Linked DNA regions of Homo sapiens: all the other regions are reported to be linked to region 3. The links are microRNA targets in miRTarBase. Many come from high-throughput screens and were not tested one by one. Region 3 holds a microRNA gene; each other region holds the end of a gene's coding sequence.

Region 1 (4,555 bases), not on the chromosome of region 3:
AATGACTTGCATAATGACAAACTCTGAACAAGATGGAATGTTTTCAATTTTAACATAGTTTTATTAATATAGTAAATAAACAAAATTTAGCAAATATCAAATATTTAGTATCAAAGAAAATTTACCATAAAAAGAATACTTCTGAAATAGCAATGCATATTTTCGTTATACGCACCTTTAAGAAAGCAGTGATCTCAGAATGTCTACAAGTATTACTATTATTATTTTAATTTAAGAGTCTTTCAAAGGCCAAATTGTTGCGGTTTGTGGGGTTCTTTTTTCAGTCTCTAGTTTGAGGAATTTTCTGGAGTTATATTTTTCTTTTTTTTTTTTTCAATCTTGCCCTTAAATGCAATATATTTGTTTTCTTGATGAAAAGAATGCAATCTTAGTCCTTTGGAATTTTTTTTCTTTTTTAACCTGGAGAAGACTGTTCAATGCAGCTATCTTTCAGGTCACCTTTCCTAGCTTAGTAATGCCTCAAAAACCAAGGAGCATATGTCCATATCCTGATTTCTTACAGGTTTCACAGTTACCTGCTAGTGGAAGTGCTACAGAAGTCACGTTGTTAGTAAGATATCCAATAACCAAAGAGGCTTTTGTAATAGCCTTATTTTTACCCTTCACAATATTTATTGACATAAAAATCTGTAATCATACATTTGAGTACTATTTGCATAAGGAGGTTAACCTTTTAGTAATAATCACAAAGAGGTTAGTGTTTGTTATTCATTGACATAAGATGGTATTTCCAGCTGCACCTTCTGTTGGGTATCTCATAATTGGCATGAGCAGGAGTCCTCCAAAAAAGTGTTAAAGTTTCATAGTTTCACAAGATACAGAGAGCTTATCACAAGTTGTACATTTTCAATTAGTTTCTAAGGAAGATAGCATCATTAGTTTGTTAGTACTATTATGGTGCATGGTGTCTGTAGACATAATAATAAAGATAAAGATAATAATGTGTTATTGAACTTGCCTTCTACAGGGAGTAAAAAATCATTCTACAAATCAAAGTCAAAGGAGGCTGAGGAAAGCATTACAAAAACGAAAAAGGAGCTGGGCCCCCAGGTCTGCTAATTTAGGCCAATCTTTTTTTTTTTTTTGAGTCGGAGTCTTGCTCTGTCGCCCAGGCTGGAGTGCAATGGCGTGATCTCAGCTCACTGTAACCTCCGCCTCCTGGGTTCAAGCAATTCTCCTGCCTCAGCCTCCCAACTAGCTGGGATTACAGGCGCCCGCCACCATGCCGGGCTAATTTTTGTATTTTTAGTAGAGATAGGGTTTCACCATGTTGGCCAGGCTGGTCTCTTGGCCGGGCTTGTCTCGAACTCCTGACCTTGTGATCTGCCGCCTCGGCCTCCCAAAGTGCTAGGATTACAGGCATGAGTCACCGCGCCCAGCAGCCAATCTTCTACTTTAAAAAACAGTACAGGCTAAATTATCTGACTTGTTAGTACTTTACATAGTTATGTTGTTATGACTGTTCCAGAGTTAGTGAGAAATTGACAGTCTCCTAATGTTTTTAAACTATTCATTTTCCAAATGCTCTTTTTTTGTGACAATGACTGCCTATACCATCACTTAAACATTGATAATAATGGTAATAACAACATATGCTTTTAAAAGTTAATTTCCCCTTTAAAATTTGACATTACACTTTATTCTTCATGACAAAGGTATTCGGCAAAAAAGAATGGACCACTGAATTGAAAAAACTCCAAATTTGGTCATAAATGTTATTTGTATGTTTTAACAATTGAATGGACAATTTGTCAGCTTGCTTTTTATTGGTGGCAGAATGACACAGTTTATTTCCTGCACCCAAAGAATGAATCAAACTTTTTATGTTCCAAATTTTTGGTAAGATGATATAATAATCTCACAATTATTGAGAATAATGAAATAAATAATGTGAGGTTTTTTTTTAATTACAGCAGCAGTCATGTCAGTTCAAGTGAATAAAGAAGATTCAAAACCCAGACCAAATATGTTTTACATGCTTCTTTTGTAAACTTGCTAAAAATAATTGCTGTGGAGATGGATAATTCAAGGAATTCAAGGAAACTTTACAATGCCAAATTTCTTTCTCTAAGGAAATGAAATCTAGAATCCATTTAGTAAAATATTAAAAATATTCACTATTGCTGGGCATGGTGACTTACACCTGTAATCCTAGCACTTTGGGAGGCTGAGGCAGGTGGATAACCTGAGGTCAGGAGTTTGAGACCAGCCTGGCCAACATGGCAAAACCCTGTCTCTGCTAATGATACAAAAAAATTAACCGGGTGTGGTGGCACACACCTGTAGTCCCAGCTACTGGGGAAGCTGAGGCAGGAGAATAGCATGAAGCAGAGAGGCAGAAGTTGCAGTGAGCCAAGATCACACCACTGCACTCCAGCCTGGGCAACAGAGTGAGACTCCATCTCAAAAAAAAAAAAAATTCACTATTTATATTTGAATATTTTACTTTTTTTTCCTTATTTTTTCTTTCCCTCACAGATAGTTGAAGAGGTATATTCTTAACTTGGAATAATCAATGTTTTGATAGATCTATGCTTTGCAAGCATGTATAGGAAAAAAGAGAGGGGAAAATGAAAAAACTAAGGTATTATTTTATACTCTGGTATCTGCCAACTTTTAATCTTTGTAATTCAATTCCATTTATAATTCAACTGAAGGTGAATTCTTACATTGAGAAGAAGAAAATGAAATCAGGATAAAAGCAAGAACTTTGTTTTTGCATAAATATGCTAATGAAAAACTGGAGAAAAAAATTCCTGCCACCAATGGAATTACAGTTGGAAAATCCATCTAAGAAAGACAGTTAAACTTCTCACCTTCCAGAAATGAAGGTAAGTGCCTTTACTACTGAAGTACAATAAAATCCTGTTTTCACAATTTGTATTTTCTCCACAATTTTCACTCTTCCTCAGTCCTATTCATCTCTCACTGAGTCCCTCTTACCAAACATTTGAGAATTTCCCACAATTTACCCCCTACTTCTGCAGATACTTTCCATATCTTCTAGTGTTTCTTTCCTTCATCAGCTCCAAAGGTGAGTTAAATCAAGAGCTTGGGTAAAGAAGGCCAGCCTCTGAGAAGTCCAGGTGGAAGCAATGTGTCTTCAGAAGTAAAGTGCTCAAACCCAAGGAGAAAAAAATGGGATGGGAGATCCAGGAGGACTCCAGCATTATTTCAGCCCTGTCAAGTACTGTTACTATCTACTTTAATAGTAAAAGTAAAAGCAGGAGTGGCAGATGCTAGTCAGGCTGAAACAGTCCTGCAGCTTCTTGGAATCTATATACTTGAGAGAAGAGAACCGAACCCCACTCTCTCATGGGCTGCTGTAAACCACCCATACGTTTAGTTTCCTTTGTCAAATCTTGTTTTTTTGTTTTGTTTTGTTTTGTTTTGTTTAGAAACAGGGTCTCACTCTGTCACCAGGCTGGAGTGCAATGGTACAATCATAACTCACTGCAGCCTCCAACTCCTGGACTCAAGGGATCCTCCTGCCTCAGCCTCCAAAATTGCTGGGATTACAGGTGTGAGCCACTGTGCCCAGACAAATCTCACTTTTTAAGATAGGGAGAAAAGCTTTAGGAAGAAGTAAAAACTATTTGTAAAGATTATTCTGGCAGCAGAATCGCTATTTTCTTTCATTTTATTTTTCTCTTATTTGCTACATTTTATTTGAATCCCCAGTAAAAGATGATTTGATTGCATTGAGACAATATATACCTTCCTGTATGTATAGACCTTTTGTATGATTACCTTAAAGAAGGAAATATATGTCTGTGTGTGTGTGTCTATATATATATATAGACATATATGTATACTTTGTTTTTTATCCATTAGTTCATGTAAAACATGAACAAAATATAATGTTCTTTGTAAGCATATGCCAAGAAGGTAGTAAAAACTGTGATTTGTATTCTACACATTCCAAAACACCATATTGCAAATCTTCACAAAACATTCTGGGCTATGTCTATACAACTTAAACAAAGTGAACATACACACTATTTAGTGAATTTGGGTCTAACTATAAAATGGAATTTTCTCTTGCTTCAAAAATGCATACATACAGGTTGGCTGGTCCCAGATTCTTGAACAGCTAACATTCTATTTTGGTTTGGTGTTAGGTTGACTAAAACCCGGAGAGGCAGAGCTTGTTTTCCAGAGAAATCTCAGCACATTCTTGAGGCTGCCTGTTATTTTTATATTAATAATGATGTACGTAGTTGCTTCTAAAATTCTATCCAGCTTTTGAATTCTTAGGTTACTTAGATGATAAAAAGTCCCATGGATGCTATTTTTTGAGTGAAAAAGTAGCACTCCTCTAATCATTCGTTCAGTGACGTTCTCTAAAGGCAAGGCTTTCTGAGGATTTAGGTAGACAGAGGAGTATTCATGGTCAAATACAGGACCTCCTTATGGAAGTTAGCCTGAGCATGTACAAGATGGAACAAATTCAAAAAGCTTCTGTCATCTTCATCACGGTCTCCTATATGCCATACATAGTGGGGAAAAGAAAATGACAGTTAAAATGTTAAGT
Region 2 (4,656 bases), not on the chromosome of region 3:
AGGTAGATCACTTTAATCATTTCTCAAAAAACAGAATTAAATGTAAAATGAAATGTGCAAGTCCTTAAAGTTAAAACAAAACCAACTAAAAAACTTGTGCAATCCTACTACAGTTTGGTAACCCAGAATGCCACTGATAAAGTAATACAAAGAAACAAAAAAACTAGATACTTTATTAGTACATTCTTTTAAAAACAATCTTGTTAGCCTGGTGAGGTGGCTCATGCCTGTAATCCCAGCACTTTGGGAGGCCAAGGCAGGCAGATCACCTGAGGTCGGGAGTTCGAGTCAAGCGTGACCAAGATGGAGAAACCCCACCTCTACAAAAAATACAAAATTAGCTGGGCCTCGTGGTTCATGCCTGCAATCCCAGCTACTCAGGAGACTGAGGCGGGAGAATCGCTTGAACCCGGGCGGCAAAGGTTGCGGTGAGCCAAGATCATGCTATTGCACTCCAGTCTGGGCAACAAGAGCGAAACTCCATCTCAAAACAAAAACAAAAACAAAACCAATCTTGTCATTACCTAGGAATAATAAGCATATTTACAGTCACCTATTTTCAGGGATCTTCGGGACCTGTTAAAACACTGACTGCCTTGACATTACATTTCTGCCACAGCTGTGCAAAGCACACCCCTTCAAAGTGTCATTTTCAGTTGCTACTAGACAATGAGAAATTAGTTGTAGAAGTATTTTGTAAATCTGTTTTGAATCAGAATACAGATTCTCTGTAACTAGAAATAGTAAAGGCACATGAGTTATAGCTTAGTCTATAAATTATCTTTATTCTTTGACATCTTACAGATCTCTACACAGACATCTGTGACCCTTCAGACGTTCAGGATGCCCCAGAGAAGGGAACATAGAGCTTCCTGTCTGCATTACATAAACTTTTCCTAATAAATGCATATGGTTAAGTTATAAGGAAGGTATAGTTGTAGACTAAACCAAATATTTTTTGTTTTATTTTTTTTTGAGACAAAGTCTTGCTCTATGGCCCAGGCTAGAACACAGTGGTATGATCTCAGCTCACTACAACCTCCACCTCCTGGATTCAAGTGATTCTCCTGCCTCAGCCTCCTCAGCAGCTGGGATTACAGGCATGTACCACCACCTGCTGCCAATTTTTTGTATTTTTAGTAGAGACGGGGTTTCACCATGTTGGCAAGACTGGTCTTGAACTCCTGACCTCAAGTGATCTGCCCACCTCAGTCTCCCAAAGTGCTAGGATTACAGGCATAAGCCACGGTGCCCGGCCTAAACCAAATAATTTGGATATGAGTGCTACCTAATTCATTAATGCAATTAAAAGTTTTCTATCTAAATAAGTTGATGATGCTTATAGTAATATACTGAAGGACCTTAGCAAAGAAATGGGAAATCGGCAGAGTGCGGTGGCTCACACCTATAGTCCCAGCACTTTGGGAGGCCAAGGTGGGCAGATCACAAGGTCAGGAGTTCAACACCAGCCTGGCCAACATGGTGAAACTCCGTCTCTACTAAAGATACAAAAAATTAGCCAGGCATGGTGGCTCACGTCTGTAATCCCAGTTACTCGGGAGGCTGAGGCGGGAGAATCGTTTGAACCAGGGAGGCAGAGGTTGCAGTGAGCTGAGATCACACCATTGCACTCCAGCCTGAGTGACAGGGCAAGACTCCATCTAAAAAAAAAAAAAAGAAACGGGAAATCAAATCCTTAAGTCAACTAGTTAAATTTTACTGTATGCAGCCGGGCACGCTGGCCCATGCCTGTAATCCCAGCACTTCAGGAGGCCAAGGCAGGTGGATCACCTGAGGTCAGGAGTTCGAGACCAGCCTGGCCAACATGGTGAAACCCCATACAGAAAAATTAGCTAGGCATGGTGGTGGGCGCCTGTAATCCCAGCTACTTGGGAGGCTGAGGCAGGAGAATCGCTTGAATCCGGGAGGCGGAGGTTGCAGTGAGCCGAGATCACGCCTTTGCACTCCAGCCTGGGCAACAAGAGCAAAATTCCATCTCAAAAAAAAATTTTTTTTACTGTATGCAAGACCTTTAATATATATTGCTCCAACTGGCCAGTAGAAATAACTTAAAAGTAACCGCATCATACACCCAGTAAATCTTTCTCTTAGAAATGAACAGAGAACAATTCTTTAGAATGCTTCTCAGGGAGAAAATGAGAAGTTTTGAGAAGCAGTTTTGTTTGGGTCAAGGGGTACTTTCAAATTACACTTATGAGTCAGTATCTATAAAAAGTTTCAGAAGTACCTACAATTTAGCCCTCTACATCCAAGCAGTAGCTTTGCAGTATGCTCTTACTTAGGTTTGCCCAAGTACAAATAAATTTTACAAAGCTTGATAATCTAATAAAATTCCCTCTTCCTAAAGCCAAACAGATAATTTTGGTGACAACAATCTAGCAAAAAAGGAAGAATTTTTTTTTCTTTTTTTTTTTTTTTTTTTGAGACAGGTTCTCATGCTGTCACCCAGGCCGGTGTGCAGTGGCACAATCTTGGCTCACTGCAGCCTTGACCTCCTGGGCTCAAGTGATCCTGCAACCTCAGCCTCCCAAGCAGATGGGACCACAGGTACAAGCCACAACGCCCGGCTAATTTTTATATATTTTTTGGTAGAGACGGAGTCTCATCACGTTGCCCAGGCTAGTCTCGAACTCCTGAGTTCAAGCCATCTTCCCGTCTCACCTCGGCCTCTCAAAGTGCTGGGATTACAGGTGTGAGCCACCATGCCCAGCCTAAAAAAGGGAGAAATTTCTAGGTGCATACTGCCTGCTGGACTGTATAGCCCATTACAACATCTGGTCACTAAGAACCTCCTATTAATTCCTTACTTGCATTCTCAGGATCAAGACAAAAAATATGAGCAAGCAAAAACTTATCATCAAGCAAAAAGGTATCTATCTATTAAAATAGCTAGATATTTCCCAAACACCCCTCCTAGGATATCTGCTGCCAATAAAAAGTTTGGGGCTAGTGAAAACTCTTGGCATTAAATAAAAGTAGGAATCTATTTCATTGGCTTTCTCTGTGGCTCAAACTATGGCCATGGAAAATTATGCTCTGGATATAATTGTGAATATAGAGGTCTTTAAACTGTGTCATTGACACTATTCCTATATCACATAAAGTTTTATGTTACAATTTATACTGCACTGGAGAAGTAGCTAAAGGGACTATTTGCCAGGAAGCTTCTAGTAAATAATTTCTACAAATTTGTAAAATAGGAGTTGTCTACACTTAAACTGGAGAATTCTACAGCATAAATGGCATTTCTATTATTAGTAAACCTGGCAAATCTGTGTGAGCTCTTTATTAATTGGGATATATTCCATATCCATTCTCACTCATATTTTTAGAAAAATCATTCTTGAGTTTATTTTTTTTCTTTAAGAGACAGGATCTCATTCTGTTGCCCAGAGTGGAGTGCAGTGGCATGATCGTAGCTTACTACAACCTCAAATTCCTGGGCTCAAGTGATCCTTCTGCCTCAGCCTTCCAAAGTGCTGGGATTATAGGCATGAGGCCACTGCGCCCAGCCTCGTTAGTCATTTATCTACCAAATACATGGAAAACTCACAGAATCAGAGGGTCTTATCACCAAATCTATGTTTGCTTTGCAAAAGGTCAGGTCCTGCATTTTCAAAATGTTCCTTGTGCTCTGTTATGCTTTATATTTCATAGCACAGCAACGCCCCCTTCACAACGACTGGTGATCATGTTACCAATTTCTGTCCATGTATCTGAATGAGGGTTATAAACTTCAACTGAGTCCAAGGTACCTGGAGCCAAAAAATCATGGCTGGAAGATCGACCTCCAGAAACATACAGAAGACCATTGACTGCCACAACACACATGCCTGCTCTAGGCACTTTCATTGAGGCAACTTCAACCCACTTTTCCTGGTTAAGAGAGAAAAAAAAAATATGTTAGCAGTGTTATGAAATGATAGTAAAGAAATCCACTGAGAAATTCGATATCCCAGTTCTTTTTACATGTTTAAATGTAAAACTATCTAGTCAGGTAAGCATACAGATTTTTTTTTCTTTTTTTTGCTTTGTTTTTTCCTTGGAGACAGGGTCTCGCTCTGTCACCCAGGCTGGAATGCACAGCAACGATCTCGGCTCAGCGCAGCCTCAACCTCCCAGACTCAAGAGCTCCTCTTGCCTCAGCCTCCTGAGTAGGTAGGACTACAGGTGTACACCACCACACCTAGCTAATTTTTCTATTGTAGAGATGGAATTTCACCATGTTGTCCAGGATGGTCTTAAACTCCTAAACTCAAGTGATTGTCCCACCTCAGCCTCCCACAGTGCTAGGATTACAGGTGTAAGCCACAGCACCCGGCCCAGAATATTTTAAAATAAACTTGAAGTGGGCATGAACAAAGTAAATTTAGAGGAATATAATTTTTTAAAAGGTCTGATTATAAAACATGATCAGGAAATGACCTAGAACTCATACACAGGACAACATTCTAAGAAACAAAGTCTATGGAATACAAGTAGGTAATACACTCAAAAATAAGCAAATAAAAACAAAAGAACCACAAAGCTCCAAGGAGAAAGAAGCTTATAAACCAAAGGATTTTTTAAAAGCCTTTAGTATTTTAATGAGTCTTAAAAATGTCCAAGAGAATGACACAGCATGGAACACCTGAC
Region 3 (4,357 bases):
AGACACTCATTGATGTGGCAGCCACGCTCGTCCGAGCTGTCGCCACAGTCATCCTGGCCGTTGCAGAGCAGTGCCTCAGCCACACAGCGCCCACTGCTGCACAGGAACTGTGACGAGGCATTGCACTTGTGCTCTGCGGAGGGGCGGAGGCGGCAGGTCAGCGGGGTCTCAGGCAGTCTGGGGAGGGGGCAGAGGGGAGCCAGGTCTGGGGCCCACCTTGGCTGGTGCAGTGTGGGTTCTTGGGAGCCTCGTCACTCTGGTCGTGGCAGTCATTCTCGCCATCACACTCCCACTGGCGGGAGCTCAGACAGCGCCCATTGGCACAGCGGAACTCACTGGGGCCGCAGGTCGGGTACTCTGGGGGAGGAATGGACCTGTGAGGCTGATGCCCTGGCCCGGCAGAGGGCAGGGCCTCCTCCCACCACCGCCGAAGGCTCACCACACTCGGGGGACTCATCAGAGCCATCTGCACAGTCACGGTCGTGGTCACACACGAAGTGCTTGGGGATGCACTGGCGGTTCTGGCACATGAACTCACGGTCGTCACAAGTGCTGTTGTACACTGTGGACAGAGGTGGACACAGCCCTTCAGCCCTGCCTGGCCAGCGGCCGACCGTCCCTCACTCTAACCTCCTGTGGTTCTCCTGGTAGAGTGGGCAGGGCACTGGATGAGGAGTCTGGACACCTGGGCTACAGCTATGGCTCCGCCCCCAGTGGACCCCGCTGAGGCATTTCCTCTCCTGCACCCCGGCTTCCCCATCTGCAAAGTGAGACTGTGGCCATTTGCTGTCCACCCGCTCCACGTGGCCCCGCCACTCACAGCAACCAGCTGCGATGCTCTCGTCTGCACCATCAGCACAGTCTTTGTCACCGTCACAGAGCCAGCGCTCGGGGACGCACACGTGGGTGCCAGGGCAGGAGAAGGAGGAGGGGCCGCACGTCTTGCCTTCTGTAGGGGGAGAGAGGGCCACTGAGAGACTTAGGAGCGGGTAGATCAGGTCTAGCAGTGGAGGTGATGGTTCGCCGTCGTCTGCAGGGGTGTCTGTGTGTGGGGTGGAGTTGGGTGGGGTCTGTCCCTCCCTGGGGCACCTCCCCCGGCCCAATCCCAGCTTCCTTACCACAGTGAGCAGCCTCGTCTGAGCCATCCCCACAGTCATCGCTGCCGTCACACAGCCACTGCTTGGAGATGCAGCGATGGTTCTGGCACTCAAACTGGGCCTCTGAGCAGAACTTGTCTGGGGCAGTCAGAAGCCACAGTTAGATGGGGAAGGGTGGGGGTCACCCACCTGGGGAGGCTGATGCCATGGGAAGGACAGGAGAGATGCCCACAGCACCCCTCTGTGGGGGGGCTCAGCAGCAGCTAGAGGCAGAGTCTCTGAGTCTGACCTCAAGAGTTGGGGTGTGGGGCAGGGGGTTGAAGGCTCTGGATGCCCTTTTCCAAGGGGGCATTTGCTGGGGGGGACTAAGAAGTGGGGCCCAGCAGGCTCTTGGAGCACTGAGTGGGTGCAGTGGTCACTCACTGCAGTGGGTCTCGTCCTCGCCATGTTCACAGTCATCCTCTTTGTCACACGTCCAGCTCATGGGGATGCAGCGCCCACTAGGGCAGGCGAAGTAATTCAGAGGGCATCTGGGGCGTTTCACACCTGGGGGGCGAGGCAGGTGTGAGGGCCCTGCTCACCGCAGGCCACCACCCACCACACACCTGCCCCCGCCCACCTGGGCAGTCGCGCTCATCACTGTAGTCCCCACAGTCATTGGCGCCATCACACACCCAGCTGGGTGCGTAGCAGAGTGAGGTCCGCTCGCAGGGCTGGAAGAGCACGCCCTTCACGCCCAGGCGGAAGTAGCTGCTGCAGTCGGTGGCACCTGGTGGGGGCAGGGGTGAGGGTGATACCTGGTTCCCCCTGGATCACCCCCGACTGGGGCAGCTGCCAGCCCTATGGAGCCTTCATGTGTTTCCAAAAGTTGAACGGTGCCCTTCTGGTGGGGCACTGTCTGCACCATCTGCTCACTGCCCCCTCTCGGAACCCCACGAGAGCCCAGGAGCAGGAGCGGGATGGGGACAGGGCCTCAGGGAGATGGAGGCTGTCAGCGGGGATGAGGGAAGGCAGAGAGGAATGTGGGCAGGTGCAGGAGGGCCTGAAGGCGGGAGATGCAGTGAGCGATGGGGAGGAGCCCAGGAGGTGCCAGCAAAGGGCGTCACTCACTGCAGTTCATCTCATCTGAGGCGTCCTCACAATCCACAAACTGGTTGCAGCGGCTGGAGTTCCCGATGCAGGTCCCGTCCCGGCAGCGGAACTCGCCCACACCACAGGCTGTCTCTAGAACAGTGCCCGCCCCGTATCGTCAGGCCAGAGTTTTCTCTGTGGGGGCCAGAAGGACGCAGGACAGAGCTCCTGGCCCACAGCACCTGCCCTGGCCTGTCACAGAGTGCCTTGAACCAGACACCACGGGGCCCAGGGACAAAGCTTGGCCAGGGAGGGGTGGGGCAGGAACTGAGGTACAGATGGGTTATGCCAGTGCGCCTCACTCACTGTTGCAAGGGATCTCGTCAGAGCCATCCCCACAGTCGTCGGCCCCGTTGCACCACAGCATGTTGGACACACAGCGCCCATTGCTGCACTGCCGGAAAGTCTTCTTGCAGCGGCGGGAGTCTGCAAATGGAGGAGTAGGCTGCGTGTCAGCCACAGGCACAGGGAAAGGGCTGCCTCCCTGAGACGTCATGCACGTGTCCAGCTGGCCACCCCCAAACCCAAAGGCCCAGTCCAGGCTAACAGTGGTTCTGCCCTTCATGAGCTCCCAAAACTCATGGTCAGGAAGCTGGGTCCTGATCCTGCTCCATCCTGCAGGGGCCTGGGGGAGGAGGACCTGGGCTCTGGGCCTGGAAGAGGCAGGGGCTGCAGGGGGCTCCTTACTGCAGTAGGATGGCTTCTCATCGGACTTGTCCTTGCAGTGGGGGACGCCGTCGCAGGTCAGGCTGAAGTTGATGCACTCGCCATTGGCACACTCAAACTCATCTTGTGCTCGGCAAGAGGAATTCACCGCTGGGGAGGGAGGTGGAGGGAGCTTTCTGAGCCAGCGCTGTGGGCCCCAGTGCCCACGCCTCCTCCCCCGGGGAGCTGAGGTCATCATCAGCGTCTTCTTGGCAAAAGGCTTTGGGGGGCTGGGCTGGAGCATGTAGGGGAGATGGTCACCATCCCTGGTGTGTGCTTGGGTTCCCCGCCAGCCCCTCCCCCCCGCCTCTCTCACCTCGGCAGGTGAGGTCATCCTGGAGGATTCGGCCCCCTCGGCATGAGCAGTTGACATGGCCCTGGTGAGTGAGCAGACACAGGTCCTGGCAGCCACCGTTGTTGATTCGGCATGGAGAGAGTTCACCTGAGCAGGGACAGGGTGGGCGCAGGGCTGGAGAGTGTTCTCTGCTGTGCATGCACCCAGAGTGCACCCACCCATTCACTGACTTCATGGAGCTCCCAAGCCTCTGCTCAGTCACGGCAGGCACAGCGGCTTGCAGCCAGTGGGGAGGGCATGGGGATGGCTGCTGTGGGAGGGCCAGGTGCATGGGGTTTTCGGCAGGTGTGCCGTTGAGGATGTGTGTGCTTTTAGGCAGGGCACCGTGGGCTTTGAGGAGTGTTTCTGAGAGATTCGAGTCTGAGGGCCCTGAGATCACGGGTGCAGTAGTGAGCCCCAGGGCGCATGGGAGACACCTGGGAAAGCTGCAGGTCTGTGGTGGGGGGCGCTGGGGCATGTACTCGTGCCCACTGAGGGCACGTGCACCCAGGCTCTCGGCTGTCTGTGTGGCTCCAAGTGAGGAGAGTGACCAGGGTGAGGGTAGGGGCACCGAGGGCATGGATGAGCCCTGAGGGGCGGGTGTGACATGAATGTGTGTGTGCAACGTGGAGGAGATGCCAGGCGTGTGCAGAGTCCATCTGTGTGCGTAGATGCCTTGGTGGGAAGGGGTACAGGAGCACTGGGGGTTTTGCGGTTCCAAAGGTGTGTACAGCTGTGTGTGTCTGTGTAATGGAGGCCCAGGGAGAGCAGGACCAGGCAAGTGTGTGTGGGGTGTGGTGTGTGGGGTGTGGGGTGTTTATAGTATGTCTGTGAGATGTGTGTGTGTGTGTGTGGCATGTTTGTGGTACGTGTGGTGTGTGGTGTGTGTGTGTGCTGTGTGGTGTGTGTGTGATGTGTGTTGTGGGTGGTAGGTGTGTGGCATGTGTATGTGTGTCCTATGTGTGGTGTGTATGTGTCATGTGTGGTGTGTGTATGTGGTGTGTGTATGTGGTGTGTGTGTGGTATGTGTAGTGTGTGTGGTGGTGTGTGTATGTGGTATGTGTGGGGTGTGTGTGGTATGTGTGGTGTG
Region 4 (4,482 bases), not on the chromosome of region 3:
CACCCGGCCTTTTTCCCAGCTTCTTGTCTCTGCCTAGAATGTTCTTCTCATGGCTAGTTTCAGCTCATCCTTTTGACCTTAGCTGAAATAATACCTCCTGACCACCCCTGTTAAAGACAATTCTTTGTCCCAGACTTTCTTTATCTTTCTACCCTGACGTTTCATCCTAAACATTTTACATGTCTTGAACTATTCATTTATTGTCTAAAATGTAAGCTAAATGAAGGCAAAGGCTTTGTTTTGTTTCCTGCTGTATCCCCAGGGCCTTGTACATGGCAAATACTAAAAAATATCTGTGGCATAAATGAATGTCTATATTCTCGCACTAGAATTTAAACTCTCTGAGAGTAGAGGACTTAGTTGCCTTGTATATCACCAACCCGGTTGTTGGCCCAGGAGAAGTACAAGTTCAAGTCTGGGCAACATGGCGAAATCCATCTTCAATACATTCTTTTTTTTTGAGATGGAGTCTCGCTCTGTCGCCCAGTCTAGAGTGCAGTGGGGCGATCTCAGCTCACTGCAACCTCTGCCTCCTGGGTTCAAGTGATTCTTGTGCCTCAGCCTCCTGAGTAGCTGGAATTACAGGAACACACCACCATGCCCGGCTAATTTTGTATTTTGTATTTTTAGTAGAAACAGGATTTCACCATGTTGGCCAGGCTGGTCCCGAACTCCTGACCATGCTAACCCTCTTTTCATTTCCACTCAGAGGACAGTGAAGAGGAGGATAGTATCTAAGTTGGAAAGTGGCACTACCAAGTGGAGGGTCTGTCCGCTAGTTGGCACTGACCCATCCCACTGCATCTGCCCCAACCTCCACTCCCTGCTACTAGTCGGGTCTGGATTAGGGTCTACAGATGTCCTAAACCCGAAACAGATAATGATGCCCTTCCATCCCCGCTCTGAGTAATTCAAAATCAAAAGAGTAATAAACCTGGCTGGGTGCAGTGGCTCACGCCTGTAATCCCAGCACTTTCAGAGGCCGAGGTGAGCAGATCACCTGAGGTCAGGAGTTCAAGATCAGCCTGGCCAACATGGTGAAACCCTGTCTCTACTAAAAATACTAAAATTAGTCAGGTGTGGCGGTGCACACCTGTAATCCCAGCTACTTGGGAGGCTGAGGCAGGAGAATCGCTTGAACCCGGGAGGTAGAGGCTGCAGTGAGCCGAGATCACGCCATGTTGCCTAGGCAACAGAGACTCCGTCTCAAAAACAAAAAACAAAAAACAAACACCTGAAAATAGGTCAGTGAAGACCAGCACGTTCCAACTTTTCCCATGGTGATCACTCTAAGGCTTTTTTTTTTTTTTCAAGTTTAAATTCCATTTAAATTAGCCTTTTCCCCCCTTTTATTTTTGGGAGGATGCTTGCACATTGCTGGCTTTGTAAGCACCTGCCTTGTCAACTTTTAGGCAACCTTGAGCTGCAGTCTAAATCTCTCTCTCCTCTGCCTGCCTTTTCTCAGGCCTTGATGAAATCCAGTGCTCCCTGCCCATGGAGAGCAGGAGGATATCCCTGCGTGAGCTGTCGGAGGCCAGCTTCAGCGAGTGTAGGTTCAGCCTGTCACTCACAGACCTCTGCATCATCATTTTCTCCGGTGTGGCCGTGTCCATTGCGGCCATCATCTCCAGCTTCTTCCTGGCCACTGTGGTGCAGTGCCTCCAGAGGTGCGCACCCAACAAAGATGCGGAGGATGAAGACGAGGACAAGGATGACTGAGCCACCTCCTCCCTCCTGCCTCTTACTCTCCAGCACCGAACCAGAAGCTCTCTCCAAGACGAGAGGGAAATGCTGAAAATGGAAAAGCACTGGCCACCATCTGTGAACTGAACAGAGCCTGTTCCGTGTCTTGGCCCCTGGGTACACCTGCTGGGACCACTGATCTCAGAGTTTAGAATCAGCAGAGCACAGAAGCCCAGGAAGGATGGAGGGAATTATTCCTGGAGCATAACCTGCCTCTCAGATCGAGGTGTGTGTTGGGGGAGAAGATGACCGAGTCAGGCTTCATAGCTGATGACTAAAAGCCTCCCCCAGGAAATGTGAAGACTGGCAGCTTTCAATGGCAAAGATGATTTTACGCCATTCTTTTTCTGACCTGTACTGGGAGATCATGAAACATCTGCCTTCCTCCCAAGAAACAGCAGCTCAAACAGTGGAGATTCAAATTCGGATCATTCACCACAAGAACGAGAACTTTGATCCTTATATAATAGGCCTCAGCAACCTTGGGATGTTATACTGGGAACTAATAAACTCGTGTGCAATAGACTCAATGTTTATGTTCCCCCAGATTTTATATGTTGAAACCTAATCCCCAATGTGATGGTATTTGGAGGTGGGGCTTTTGGGAGGTGATTAGGTTTAGATCATATCATGAGGATGGGGCCCAAATGATGGGATTAGTGCCCTCATGAAAGGTGGCCCCAGAGAGCTCCTTCACCCCTTCAATGCTTGAGGATGCAGCAAGAAATCAGCTGCCCATGAACCGAGAAGCAGGCCCTCACCAGAACCCAGCCATGCTGGCACCCAGATCTCAGACTTCCAGCCTCCAGAACTGGGAGAAATAAATAAATGTCTGTTGTTTGTAAGCCACTCAATCTCTGGTATTCTGTTATAGTGGTCGAAATGGACCCATGAAGAAGCTAACAACTGGTCAGAGGGTGTCTGTTGTTAATTTTGGTAAGCTGGTTGGGAAAACTTTGACTTGACATAACTCAAACCCTGATCTTTATCCTAAGCGGTAGCGACTTGTAGAGGAAGGATTAGTTGCTTTGTACAGTTGTGATGGTCTCTCTGCTCAGCATCATTTTTCCTTCTGAAGGACAGACAGGTTGTTCCCCTCCATCACCCGCTTCCTGAGTTCCTTCCCAGCTACTCTCTATGTCAGCACAGTTCTCTATCTCCAGAACTTTTGGTAAACTTGCCTGGAGGCCAGTATTCCAACCAGCATGTTGCACCGGATCAACCAAATGCTTAAAAAACAAAAAAACAAAACAAAAAACACTGGGACTTGGGCTCTGAAAAACTTCCATCAGTGGCCCTTAGGGTGTATGTGACATTGCTTTGGTGCACAGGCTATGACAGGCACCAAAAAAAGTGTTTTCCAGGATGTGGAATGCAGCACTTTGGTTCAGAGACAATATGAAACAAACAAGTCTTACACCCCAGTGGGTTAATACAAGATAGCTTGTGCTAGCAGCATTGGATGAGGCTGGGGGCTGAGACTTGGATGAGGGCCTCACACCAGCTCTCGAGATATTTTTGAGAATCGTTTCTCCATTGTTTCCTATCATATATTCCTGTTTCTTTCCTCCATTGCTCCCTTCCATCTTTGCCCTCATAAATAGCTATTGAGTGCTTGAGTGCCAGGTACTGGTCCAGGCACTGTGGCTATGCTTTGGATAGGAAACACAGGTTCCCTGCTGTCTTGTGCTTTATATTCTTATGGGTAGAACATAAAACAAACAGGGAAACAAAACTACCATTGCAGGCAGAGATAAGTATCATGAAGGAAATAAGCGAGGTCCTTTAACAGAGAGTCACTGGGAGAAGACACTCCAGCGGAGGTAGTGGGGTGTGTTAGGTTTCTCCAGAGAAAACAGAACCAACAGCAGACAGACAGACAAAGAGATTTATCGTAAGGATTTGGCTCAGGAGATGATGGAGGCTGAGAAGTCCCATGATCTGCAGTTGGTGAGCTGGAGACAGGACAGCTGATGGTGTAGTCCCAGGCCAAGGGCAGGAGAAGACTCAGCTCAGCAGTCAGGCAGAAAAACAGTGGATTCTTCCTTCCTCCACCTTTTTGTTGTATTCAGGCCCTTACTGGATTAGATGAGGCCCGACACACTGGGGAGGGCCATCTGCTTTACTCAGTCCACCTGTTCCAATGTTAATCCCATCCAAAAACACACAGACACACCTGGAAATAGTTCAACCAAATATCTGGGCACCCCATGGCCCAGTCAGGTTGACACAAAATTAACCATCACATCGCAGAAGGCCTTTGATTGGGTGGCTTTTGGGCTGAATCCTGCTTCCCCCTTCTCCCGCCTCCTGACCTCCTCCCTTCTTTCCTACTCTCCCACTCTTTTCTCCCCTTCAGCCTAGAGGAGACTCTGGGTCACCCCTCTGCTCCCCAGCATTGCAGTCTCCAGTGGAGGAGACCCCTGGCTCAGGAGGGCTACCTTCTTACAGAGACCCTGGGCCAGCGGAGAAGTGAGTGGCATCTTCCAGGACTCCATGGCAACCTCAGCTCCTGTGAGAGCCCCATCTATGGTCTCTGACCCTCAGTGCACATACTGCTCCCCCTGTGCAAAACAACACAATCTAAAGTCAGCACCTCCCCAGCCTGGCCCCAGATTCAGCTGAGAACTACGTGGGGTTGGAATTGCTGCCATGGCCCGCTCTCCACCTCAGGAGCACCACTACCTGAGACTCAAAGGCATGAACCCAACTGGGTTTTGGCCTCCACCAAAGTCATAA
Region 5 (3,823 bases), not on the chromosome of region 3:
GCGAGACCTCCTCAATCCAGCTGCCTCTGCCTTCAGGACCCCTCCACCCTGCCACCGTAGCTCAGAGACTTCTCTGCCATGATCTTGCAGAAAACTCCCCAGCCTCCCACCAATTAATCTCCATATTATCTAGTGCTTGGAGAAACTGAGGCCTGAGATAGCCCCCATTTTCCCATGTCTCCTCCCACCAAACATGCCCCTAGGATGCCCTTTTTGGACCCTCAGTACCCCCTAAAGCCTCACCATCCCCTGTCTACCCTCACAGTCCTTGGGGCTCTGAGAAGTGCCACCCACCCAGAGAGGGCAGGACATTGGGCTAAAGGAGATACTTCATGAGAGAAGAGGGGGCCCAGGACATGCCCAGGTCTGCACAGGTCCTGCAGCAGTGCCCACAGGCACCCTTGGCACTGGCCCTGGCCATCCTGGCTCCACCGGGAGATCAATAATGCATGAGGCTCTGCATGTGTGAGACGGGGGAGGGGACTGGAGGGGCGAGGCTGGTTTGAGGTGGGGGAAGCAGCCCAGATCTTCTAATGGAGCTAGCAAGCACCTGAGGAACTGAGGCCCAGAGGGGACAGGGATGTGGCAGGAACGGGTGCCCAGGAGGTTGGGGCAGAGGGACCCTTGCTGCAAGAGGCTGACCTGGGAGGAAACTCCTGCATTCAGCCATTGAAAGTTCTCAAACTCTTCCGGTGTTCAGGTATCTCTGGGCCCTTCTCCCGGCCCTGTGGGGATCCTGGCCCCTCACTGCTTGTGGGTAGAGGGGGAGGCTCTATCGGTAGGCAGGTGAAGGGTCTAGGTGAGCCAGGTGGGTGCCCCCTCTCCACCTCTATTCAGGAGCAGACCCACCAGCTTCAGGTGGGAGGAAGCTCTTCTCAGGAATGTCAGCTGCTGCCACGCAGCCCCCTTACCCCAGGGTCCATGGACGCCAGTACTCCTTGGCCCTTGCGCCGCTCTGCCTCTGAGTCACCGTCTCCGAGTCACCGGCTCCCTCCTCACCGCGCTGAGCAGTGGCAGCAGCTGCTGCAGGAACCAGGAAGGAAGGAGATGTCAGAGCCTCCCCTCTAGCCGGATCTCCCCACCTCCCTCTCCCCTGTCCCCTCCTCCCGCCAAGCTCCGGGCAGCCGCTCAGCTCTGCCCCCCTGCTCCCCGGAGGACTCAGGGCTGAGCAGACTGCCCTAGCATCGATGTGGCTTGGGAGTGGGGGCACAGTCCCTGCTGGGCATGGTTCCAGATAGATCAGAGGACTGGGGAACTGTTGGCTGTACGCCAGTGGTGATAAAGGATTTATTCAGACTAGCATGGCAGTGACCCTGTTAGTACCCAAGGCCAATTCCTAATTAACCCCCGCCCCCCGCCTCTCATTTTACATCTGAAAATAGACTGCAAAATTTGGAGCCAGCAAAAGTATCAGGTTGATGGTGGAGGGACAGATGCCCCCTCTGGGACCATAAGAGAGTGCCAAGAGCACAGTCAGCAGGGGCAGTCAAGCCAGGAAAGGGACAGCCAGCAGTCCCCACACTGAGGCCCTTCACTGGGGTGATGCCCCACTAGGTCAGGCCCCATGGAGATCTGAAAGTGCTTGTGTGTATGAAGACACCCCACAGCCTGCAGTCTCTGATCAGGAGCAGGCCTGGGGCAGTCACAGCTGCCGTTAAAAGGGCTGCAATGCTGGTCCCCTCCCTTCCCTTTACCCTTCTGCTGGAGTACTGTGCCCAGCTGCTCAATTCTAATGAAAAATCGGCTCTTAACAAAGATCTAAAATTCATTCAAATGAATGTGGCATAGACCTACAGTTTCAAGCGCAGCTAAGTTTTCTGGAAAGAAGTAGGTGGGGCCTCAGGTGAAGGATGTGATTCAAGTTTCTTCTCTGACCCCAAAAGTGACATGGGCCACTTATCCCTTCCACTTCATCCTCACCGAGCTTGGTTTACGTTTCAGGGTCTCACATATCTCTCGGGAACACCCACTGTCTTGCCTTTATTCAGAGCCTCAGTGCTGCTCCAGCCACCCCAGGAGGAGGGTGTTGTTAGCACCTGGCAGGGTTCTGGGAGGGACAGGAGCACTGGGCAGCACTGACCAGACAAGCTCTGGCATCCAGGAGCCTCAAGGGCCTTTTAAGCCACTTCCCAGTGATTGAACATCCCTGGGCATACAGCACAGGATGAGGCACTGGGGGAAGCTGGTCCTGGCCCAGGCCACAAAAGAGCTGCTGCAGGTCATCCCTGCCAGACAGTGCCTGTCCAAGACTAAGGAAGCGGTGGCATTGCTTCAAGTCCGAGAAGGAATGTTGAACAGCCACCTTCCCCGGGTCACCCCTGCATCCACCCAGAATGTGCTCCAGTCAAGGATGATGGTGGACTCTGAGTTAAGCATCCCGTCTCCTTTATTAGGAATTTCTGGTTCATGAAGACTTGCATGAGGCCTCCTACCCTAGAGCTCTCAGAATTCCCCATTAATAGAGAATCCTAGTTTTCCCGCAGGCCTTTTGTCCAGAACCACCAGAGACACGTTAGCTAGTGGGTACAGCTGTCAGCTGCCTTTAATAGGGCAAGCATGCGCGGGATGCCATTTGTGGGAACAGGTATAGGGGAAGAGGATTTTCCTAGGAAGGGAAGCAAGAGTGAGGAAAGTCAGATGACAGAGAAGCCCCTGAGAGTAAGTTTAGAGGGAGGACAACCGTGTAAACCACAAAATAAAGGAAGTAGAATATATTTCATTTTATTATAAAGCAGTGCTCCCAAACTTTTCACAGCGTACACCTCGAGGGTGGAGAACTAACATCCAAGCACACCTGGATGGTGGATGGGACCCACTTCTGGGTAACCTGATGAGGAAGCTCTAGTGAAGAAATTCAGGACGCGGTCTTCAGAGCAGAGGGCTTGGTTCAAGTCCCTGTTCTGCCACTTACTAACTGCATGACCTTGAGCAAGCCACTTAATTTCTCTGCTCCTTCTCTGTGAAATGGGTACAATGTGGTCAGCAGTAAAGGAACTAATACATGTACAGCACTCAGCACAAAGCCTGGCACACAGCAGGCTCTCACCAGGTGCCATTCTCAGCACAACTGCTTGGTTGAGCTACTGTGGCAGTGGCAGGTTGTGCCCCAAGGGGGTGGGCTCAGGAGCCCGTGCAGCAAGAGGCAGTGACCAAGGAGGCAGGGGACAATAGCCCTATCTTTTCAGGATCTCTGCCTTGGACCTGGAGAATGGAGAGACTTTGCTCCTATCACGTCCCAAGTTGGGAAAACTAAGGACGAAGCCGGTGACTGACATCTGAAATGGAATCCTCTGCATCTCCAAGTGGCCCTATACCTGACAATATCATTACTAGTGAAAACCAAGTGACAAACACACTCCCCGACCCCAAGTTCTTCCACATGTCCCATTGAGGAGAGCACAGCCAATAACGCAGAGTGTATTTATGCGCAGGGCTGGCTAAACAGGCTGGCTACGAGTCCGGAACAGTGTCAGGATCTGGCTTCCCATTGGCCGACATGACAGAATCCTTCTCGCGTTGCTCTCTGATGTACTGGTCCAACAGGGTGGTCAGCTGGAGGGGCTGGTGCTGGAGCAGGGAGTGGGTCTGGGCTGTGAGGCAGGTGAGGCCTCCTACAAGCTCCCCCTGCACCAGGGGCAGGCTGGGGAGCTTGGAGTAGTTGATAAAGCCCTGCCTGCTGAGGATGGTGTCATCAATGCAGCCACCTGGAAGAACACAGGGTCAGTTAGGCTCCTTGCAGATTGCCTTTCTTCTCTGAAAACAATATTCTGACCCTAGTAACTTGCTCTCCATTGCCCTTCTCAAAATCCTGCCTTCCCCAGGA
Region 6 (4,656 bases), not on the chromosome of region 3:
CTGACCTCCTCCTGCCCCAGTTCCTCCGGAAGTCCACCCAGGGGATCTCCTACTCTCTGTTCGCGCTGGTGATGCTGGGGAACACGCTGTATGGGCTGAGCGTGCTGCTCAAAAACCCCGAGGAGGGCCAGAGCGAGGGCAGCTACCTGCTGCACCACCTGCCCTGGCTTGTGGGCAGCCTGGGCGTGCTGCTGCTCGACACCATCGTATCCTTCAGGGCGTGTGGGGCAGGTGGCGGGGTGTGGGCAAGGAAGCTTCTGCCTGCACACAGCGTCAGCACTCATCCGTCTCTTCCTCCCTTCATCCATCCGTCCATCCATCCATCCCTCCCTCCCTCCCTCCCTCCCTCCATCTGTTCACCCAGTCGTGCACACCTCCTGTGTGCCAGGCACCCAGCTGGACCCTGGAGCCGTGAGTGAGCAAGAACAGCCATGAGTGCCCCAGAAGCTTACAGCCCAGCGGGGCGCAGAGAGGACACAACGCTATCATCAAAGAATTACTTCATTGCAGTGGCACCAAGTGCTGCAGAGAAAAACAACAAGAGCGTCTAGCCAGGGACCGTCCTGGTTAGAGGGGCAGCAAAGGCCCCTATAAGTCTCATTGAACCTGTGACTTGACAGAGTAGGAGAAGTCAGGCGAAGGCAGGAGAGGAATGTTCTAGGCTGTGCAGACGAGAGCTGGAGTGTGGAGAGACACATGACTTGGTCAGACAAACCTGGGTTCAAATCCTGGCTCCTCCCCTGCTTCCTAGCTGTGTGACGCAGGGCACACAGTCAACCTCTCTGTGCTGCCGTGTCTTCACCTCAGTTAACAGCCACTGTCTCGTCAGGATGTTGTGTAAGATGAGGTATCTGGAAACACTCCCCACAGGACCCCGTTTTCAGTGAGGGCTCAGAAAGTGTTTGCTGAATGGCTGTAAAGAGCGTTACCTGGGTCTCATTTCGGAGCAAGTAAACATGGCCTTTGTTTTAATATTTGTTAAGTCCCTGCCGGGCGCAGGGAGGGGTGAAAGTTTAGGCTCTTGTGCCCCAAAACGGCCCAGCCACCTGGAAGCCTCCAGGACGCCACAGCTGAGAGCAAGCGAAGATCCTGGGCCAGGGTCAAGGGAGGCTGCCCACGGGAAGGAGAAGTCAGTGCTAGGCTTGGAGACAGATGGAGCTTGGCTAGGGCTTGAGGAGCCGGGCAGAAGTTCTGAGTGGAGGGCACAGCTAAGGTAGCGGCTGGGAGGTTATGGCTGGCCCTTCCCACCTGCAGCGTGGGGGTGGGAGGGAGGGGAGAGGGAGGCAGCTCCCAGGAGTCGAAGGCCCCCAGGGGCAGGTCCAACCCAGTCTCTGCTCAGCTTGGCCTTAACGGCGGCACCCCCAGATCTCCATCCAGTTCCTGGTGTACAGGCGCAGCACCGCCGCCTCGGAGCTTGAGCCCCTCCTCCCCAGCTGACCAGAACCAGGCTGAGCGCAGGAGGACAGGCACCACCGGATGCCACACCAGGCAGGAGGAGGTGTGGACAGTGATGGTACGGCGGCCCTGCATCAGCCTGCGGGTGGCCTCTGGATCCTCCGTGGACCGAACCGTCCCCCCAGGAACACACCTTCAGGTAGACCCCGAAGCCTCAAGGCCGGGGCTGGAGCGGAGACCCCAGGGCCTCTCAGGAGACAGTGAGGCTGCCCCTCCTACCACCTACCTCATTCTGCCTACTCACCCCAGGGGCCACAGCCACAGCCTGCTGGACTCAGGACTGTCCTGTCAACTCCAGACAACTGAATAAACAGGCCGGGTACAGTGGCTCGCACCTGTAATCCTAGCACTTTGGGAGGCCGAAGCGGGTGGACCACTTGACGTCCGTAGTTCGAGACCAGCCTGGCCAACATGGTGAAACCCCATCTCTACTAAAAATACAAAAATTAGCCAGGTGTGGTGGCACACATCTGTAGTCCCAGCTACTTGGGAGGCTGAGGCAGGAGAACTGTTTGAACCTGGGAGACAGAGGTTGCGGTGAACCGAGATCGTGCCACTGTACTCCAGCCTGGGTGACAGAGTGAGACTCCGTCTCAAAAAAATAAAAAAGATAACCGAGGAAACGGTACCTCCCCATGAGACCTGCTTCTGTTGCTCCTTCCCCAAGGTGCTGAGGGATCGGGGCTGCTTTGGGGACCAGCGGTGGATGTGGATGGGGATTCAGGACGAGCTGAGCAGAGGGGACCGCATCTGCCTGCAGCCCTGGCCCAGCCTCCTGGGGCCTCTGGTTTCTTTAGCCTGCTTCTCCGGGCCCTTTCCTGACAGGCCCCACACCTTACTGTGGGGACATAGCAGGGAGAGTGACTCCCCACGGGGAGCCTGCCCCTCGGTGTTCAGGAAGAAGCAGAATGGTTAAGGTTCTGTTGGATCTGGGTTCTCCATCGCAGTTCCTCAGTGCCTAGCTTATCTCATCTGTGAAATGGACAGTACTGTCATTTCCTGTGTCCTTTCAAGGATTACATAAGATGCTGACATTATGGAGTTTAGCCCCAGATCTGGCGCATAGTAAGGGCTCAATAAAGGTTAGTTTTGAGGACTTTTAGTTGGAGAAGAGGAGCAACCAGATCTTGGAGATCAGGGAGAGCCTCCTGGAGGAGGTGATAGGTCAGAAGGATGAGCGGGAGATATCACAGGGAAAGAGGGAGGATTGAAGGCAGGAGGAAGAAGTGGCGGGTACAGGAGCAAGGTGGGAGAGTGGAGAGGAGGGCAGAGCTGAGCTCCGAGTGCTTCCTGGACCCGCAAACTCAGTGTTGTCCAGACCCTGTTTTATTTTTAAAATTTTTTAGCCCAGGCCGGAGTACAGTGGTGCGATCATAGCTCACTGCAGCCTCGAACTCCTAGCTTCCAGGGATCCTCCCACTCAGCCTCCCGAGGAGCTGGGACTACAGATGAGCACCACCATGCCTGGCTCCAGACCCTGTTCTGATTCCACTTTCCTGGGGGTCATGACCCTCAGGTGCCTGGAGCACAGAGACGCCAGCTCCCCACCTTGTTGGCCTGATCTCACCCCACACACCCAACCCTAGCTGTGGAAAACCAGAACCAGGGACTTGGGGTATCTGGTGGGGTAGTCTTGGGGAGAGACGCTGCGTCCCAGAGTGGGCCTTGCCTTTAGGATCTCCCTTCCCAGCCCCGGAGAAGGGAAACGGTGCCATGGCCATTCTGGTGCCGCAGATCCTTTGTGAGCACAGCCCTCCACTCAGCCTTTGCTGTGTCAGACACCGGGGCTGTGGTGAACCAGCTCCAAGGCCCTGCCTTCCAGGAGAGGAGATGGTTACCATGACCAGAAGGTAGAAATGTCAGGAAATGAGCAGATGAGACCAGCCCCAGGAGGGTCAATCAGGGAGGACTTCTCAGAGGAGTGGCCTTTGAGCTGGATCTTGAAGGCAGAGGGGAGGGCAGTTCAGGAAAAGGGAGGGGCAGGTACAGAGGCCTGGAGGTGGGTGTCTCGGGTGCTTCCAAGGTGGGGCTGCTTACAAGGAGCCTTGAAAGCCACACCAATGCCAAGGACAAGGTCCTGGGGCACACCCAGCAGCAGCCCAGCAGCAGGTGATGGGGTTTGGTCGGGTGAAGAGCCTTTTGCTAGAGAGAGGAGGCAAGGCACACCTCTGAGACCCAGGTGGGCAGAGAGGGCCAGTCTCCCCTGCCCTGTCCCCCTAGGGGACACCCACGGAGCCCAGGATGCCATCTGGCATGCAGCTGTTAGTTGCACACTTGCCATGTGCGGGCTGCGCCGCCTGCCATCAGTGCACGAGATCTCCCCGTCTTCACAGCCAGCTCTGAGATGGGGGAGTTTTTATTTTTTTTTGACACAGAGTCTTGCTCTGCCGCCCAAGCTGGAGTGCAATGGTGCGATCTCAGCTCACTGCAACCTCCGCCTCCCGGGTTCGAGCGATTCTCCTGCCTCAACCTCCCAAGTAGCTGGGATTACAGGCGCCTGCCGCCACGCTCAGCTAATTTTTGTATTTTTAGTAGAGACGGGGTTTCACCATGTTGGCCAGGCTGGTCTCGAACTCCTTACCTCAGGTGATCTGCTTGCCTCAGCCTCTCAAAGTGCTGGGATTACAGGTGTGCCACCGCGCCCGGCCAAGATGGGAGTATTTTTATGGCCATTTTACAGATGGGAGAACAGTCTCAGCACAATTGAGCAGCTTGCCCAGCTAGGAGCAGCAGCAACACGAGACCCTCCAGCTTTGGGAGCCACCCCACACCTGGCCAACGCTGGCGGCCCGTGTCCCCTTCCTCCATCCTTGCTGGGGGCCCATGGCTTGTGGCAGTTCAGCTTCACCCTCAGGAGTGGCCCGAACCCTGCTGGACCCAGGCTCCCTTCTCACCATCCTGAATAGCGACTTTGCTGAGCCTCTGGCCCTGCCGAGATTTCAGGATAAGTTACCCCCAGGCCCGAAGCCCCAGCTTGCCCTGGCCTGTGCCTGCCTCAGGTGCCAGCTAGATGTCTCGCTCCACCTGGGTCTGGGACCTGGCTCCACACCAGTTACCTGGGACCAGTAGGTGCCCTTCCAGCCTGAAGATCTGGGGGCACAGTATAGCCACATGAGCCCCAAGTGTGGTCCTGAACTGGGGCCGGGTGGGGAAGAGTGAGATGGGATAACATAGCCCCTGCTTGGAGGCCCTTCTCTGATG
Region 7 (3,000 bases), not on the chromosome of region 3:
TCTTGTTCTCTAAATTATGTTTCCCCATTTCCCTTGAATGTTCTCTATTGGCCATCTTCTGGAACATTAAAAAAAAATCTTGAAACAAATTCTCTTGCAATGATACGTATCACATAAACTTGATATGCTTTATATTACAGCATTTGTAAAATTAAGTACCAAAGGCAGGCATATAAATAGAAAAAACATCAAGGTATTTCTAGGGGTGCCCAACAGCATTTGGGATAAATATGGAATCCAAAAGTGCAAAAGGAATGCAGCATTGGCAAGAGAATGGTCCTTTGGTGACTAGACTATTCCCTGTTTGCCTAAAGTTTATGTAAGAATTGATATTCAAAGCTTATCTGGAATAAGTTCTTTTCTGGTCTAGTAAGTGAAGGGTTAATAGAGGGAGTAATTGTGGTTTCTAATAGGGAAAAATATTAATAAGGCTAAAAAAAAGTAGATCCAAGAATGACCTACTTTTCTACTTTTTTCATCCAAGTGAAACTTTTTTCAATTTAAAATAATCAATAACACTTATAGAGGGAAATGATTTATTATGGGTACTTAAATATAGGATATAATTTTACATTTGTTCATCAACATTCATGTTACCGGGATAAGGGCTTTCTTAAATTACGAATTATTCTGTTTCACAGGATACCAAGATTCATTTACAGTTATATTTGTTTCCTTTATCACTCAACAGTTCAAATAGTTGAGCACTGAGGTTAACATAGCTTAGTTTCTAAATGTGTCTGCTGGGAATATAGTAGGAAATCAATTAATGCCCGATGGCTGGCTACTGCTTAGCAGTGACCATGGAAGCTCTGTGCACAGCAGATGCCACTGCAACCTAGATAAACTGTAGCAATACTTAAGTTATTTATATAAACTTAGGGAAGGCAAGAACTATGACAACTATCACTCTGTGAGCTGTGAATTAACAAATAATATGTACAGAAAACACTGACACAAAAACATTCCAGTAAAAACATAATTTAAAAACTGGACAAGAGTTCCAGTGGTTTTTAATATTGTACCCATAGCTATTTAAAGTCATATACATACACATACACACACACAAATTATATATATATATATATTTCATGTGCATGTGGATTTATATACACAGATATATGTAATGTATGTGTGTGGATATGTATATATATAATTTGTGTTTGTGGAGATATAAGATATATATCTCATATACACGTGTGTATATATATGTATAATCTACATGTAACATAGATATTTACCACTCTGTAAACTCTGCACTTAGTTTTCCAAGTCTTAAAAACAGCAAAATATTACTGAAAACAAACAAAACAACTTTCATTGACAGTGACTTCTCATACTGACTTATTTGGAGCAAGTATATTTCCTGCACTAGTGAATAGGTGACAGGAAATACAGTTAATTCTCTTAGAATATTAATGCCAAAAGCAACTCTCAAGGCCACTAAGACTGACCTCCGCCCTTTACAATGGAGCAACAAAAACGAGTGAGAAAAAATCACTTTCCCAGTATTCACATTAGCAAGGTTAAGACTTAAAAGACAAATTGCCAAACATCCTTTTCTGTGCTCTTTTCATGAGTCAGAAAAATGCCCTAAAAGAGTCTTTCTGTTACCTCCCTCTCTATAGCACCATTAGGAGATTTCTTTCAGACTGAACCTAGTATGGAGCCTCCTGCAAACTCTAAATGAGCAATGCGATATAAGCAGATAGGGAGAAGGAATGAAAAAATGTGGGTTGACCTGTGGATAATCAGGAATTGACTGGAGCAAAAACAAAAATTAAGAAATATTTTTCAAGTTTACATAGATTTCATAAATTACCTGAGATGAGGACAAGGGTGGTATAGAAGACAAGTCCTTTAAATCAATTAAAAGAAACATTTTCAGTTACACTGCTTTGTATCATCCTAAGTGGATGTCAGTCTTGCTGTGGTTATGTATTATACAGCCGAATGAGGAAAAAAGTTCATTATCCTCAGCTAAAATGTAGGCCTTGATTATCTTTTCAACGGACGAGTAAAAATAAGATAAAAAGAAAACTATACTCGGAAACTCATGACCCTGTCAACAGTGACTTATTTTAAAGGCATATTTAAATTCATAGGAAAGGCTGCTCCATATGTTAAGATTTTAAAAAGAATGGAGACATATAAAAACAGGGATAGACAATGTAGAAGGGGAAATTCGCATTGAACAAGTCTTTGCCTGCAAAGAACATAGTGGCATCAGAGACTGGTGACAGAACGTTGATGATATCTTTCTAAACTTTAGTGTTGCCTGAGGAAGCAGAATAGTCAGCCACACAGTCACCCTAAATTTATCCCTATTGGGAGGCTTAGACCATTATTTTTGCCTATGAAACCATAAACTGCGAATGAAGACTGGGGGGACTCTTTCTTCCTGGAGCACCCCTTGTTCTTTTTACCCTTTTCATTATTCCTTTCATACATTTTTCAAAGATGAATACGAGAGGCCCTGCTCATCACTGCTAGACCGCCTGGGACTTTTCTTCACTGGCATGGCCACCTGCAGCTGCTTCCAGAACCTGCCCTGTGGATACTTGGATTTTTCCCCTTTCCATTTAATGACCGTGAGCACCGTCTTAGCCCTCTTCAGCTCTTTCACCTTCGTTTCCTTCACAGCTTTGTACTGTACTAAAATGACGTTGATGTTGCCCCGAGAGGCCATATTTTCTAGGCCAGCCTTGAGCTCCAGGAGGGCTTGGGTTCCCTGGAGCACGTAGTTGGGGCTTAGAACAACCAGGAGGCGTCTGCTTTTCTGAATGAAGCTCAAAGTCTCATCTGTGACAACTGGGAAAGAAAACAACCATGGGGATTAGTGTTGGCCAAAAACTCCCCAAAAGCATTGAGGCTTGAGGAGCAAATGTAGGGAACTTAGGGTACCAGCCTAAGAATTGAGGTGAAACATTTTACCAGCAAAAATGTGAACAACTTAATCCTTATACCTGCAAACTCTCTTTGTTAAATACCACTGTCTTC

What was found. Region 3 holds the annotated microRNA hsa-miR-1228-3p (UCACACCUGCCUCGCCCCCC, at 1,646-1,665, opposite strand). A microRNA usually pairs through its seed, bases 2 to 8, with sites in the 3' UTR of a target mRNA and lowers its output. Matches are read on the target gene's strand: a 7mer-m8 pairs with bases 2 to 8, a 7mer-A1 pairs with bases 2 to 7 and ends in A, and an 8mer does both.
Region 1: the mRNA of FBXO47 is a reported target of hsa-miR-1228-3p. The part of its 3' UTR that is shown has no 7-base or 8-base seed match.
Region 2: the mRNA of IPP is a reported target of hsa-miR-1228-3p. The part of its 3' UTR that is shown has no 7-base or 8-base seed match.
Region 4: miRTarBase lists LRRC38 as a target of hsa-miR-1228-3p. Seed matches in the 3' UTR shown: 7mer-m8 at 1,968-1,974.
Region 5: the mRNA of MRPL10 is a reported target of hsa-miR-1228-3p. Seed matches in the 3' UTR shown: 7mer-m8 at 2,790-2,796.
Region 6: miRTarBase lists SLC66A1 as a target of hsa-miR-1228-3p. Seed matches in the 3' UTR shown: 7mer-m8 at 1,497-1,503 and 7mer-m8 at 1,908-1,914.
Region 7: the mRNA of IL1RAP is a reported target of hsa-miR-1228-3p. The part of its 3' UTR that is shown has no 7-base or 8-base seed match.

The regions. Positions count from the first base shown.
Region 1 is chr17:38,932,787-38,937,341 of GRCh38, forward strand. It overlaps FBXO47 (F-box protein 47), which reads right to left. Exons shown (of 11, transcript NM_001008777.3): 11 at 3,646-4,504. The coding sequence ends at 4,389. Among named protein-coding and RNA genes, the nearest start is that of LASP1NB, 9.4 kb to the left of the region's middle.
Region 2 is chr1:45,696,294-45,700,949 of GRCh38, forward strand. IPP (intracisternal A particle-promoted polypeptide) reads right to left here. Exons shown (of 9, transcript NM_005897.3): 9 at 2,418-3,897. The coding sequence ends at 3,673. Among named protein-coding and RNA genes, the nearest start is that of TMEM69, 10 kb to the left of the region's middle.
Region 3 is chr12:57,191,863-57,196,219 of GRCh38, reverse strand. MIR1228 (microRNA 1228) reads right to left here and starts at 1,716; the gene lies at 1,644-1,716. LRP1 (LDL receptor related protein 1) reads right to left here. Exons shown (of 89, transcript NM_002332.3): 45 at 3,250-3,375; 46 at 2,916-3,044; 47 at 2,535-2,654; 48 at 2,208-2,321; 49 at 1,717-1,866; 50 at 1,521-1,643; 51 at 1,119-1,235; 52 at 821-949; 53 at 440-562; 54 at 217-357; 55 at 1-133. RefSeq lists an enhancer at 3,161-3,660.
Region 4 is chr1:13,473,083-13,477,564 of GRCh38, reverse strand. It overlaps LRRC38 (leucine rich repeat containing 38), which reads left to right. Exons shown (of 2, transcript NM_001010847.2): 2 at 1,466-2,592. The coding sequence ends at 1,719. Among named protein-coding and RNA genes, the nearest start is that of LRRC38, 39 kb to the left of the region's middle.
Region 5 is chr17:47,820,755-47,824,577 of GRCh38, forward strand. It overlaps MRPL10 (mitochondrial ribosomal protein L10), which reads right to left. Exons shown (of 5, transcript NM_145255.4): 5 at 2,518-3,704. The coding sequence ends at 3,451. OSBPL7 (oxysterol binding protein like 7) reads right to left here and starts at 1,040. Exons shown (of 23, transcript NM_145798.3): 1 at 912-1,040. RefSeq lists a silencer at 1,003-1,218 and an enhancer at 1,329-1,498.
Region 6 is chr1:19,327,207-19,331,862 of GRCh38, forward strand. SLC66A1 (solute carrier family 66 member 1) reads left to right here. Exons shown (of 8, transcript NM_001040125.2): 7 at 21-206; 8 at 1,366-2,094. The coding sequence ends at 1,437. Among named protein-coding and RNA genes, the nearest start is that of SLC66A1, 17 kb to the left of the region's middle.
Region 7 is chr3:190,648,149-190,651,148 of GRCh38, reverse strand. IL1RAP (interleukin 1 receptor accessory protein) reads right to left here. Exons shown (of 12, transcript NM_002182.4): 12 at 1-2,811. The coding sequence ends at 2,444. Among named protein-coding and RNA genes, the nearest start is that of LINC02013, 50 kb to the left of the region's middle.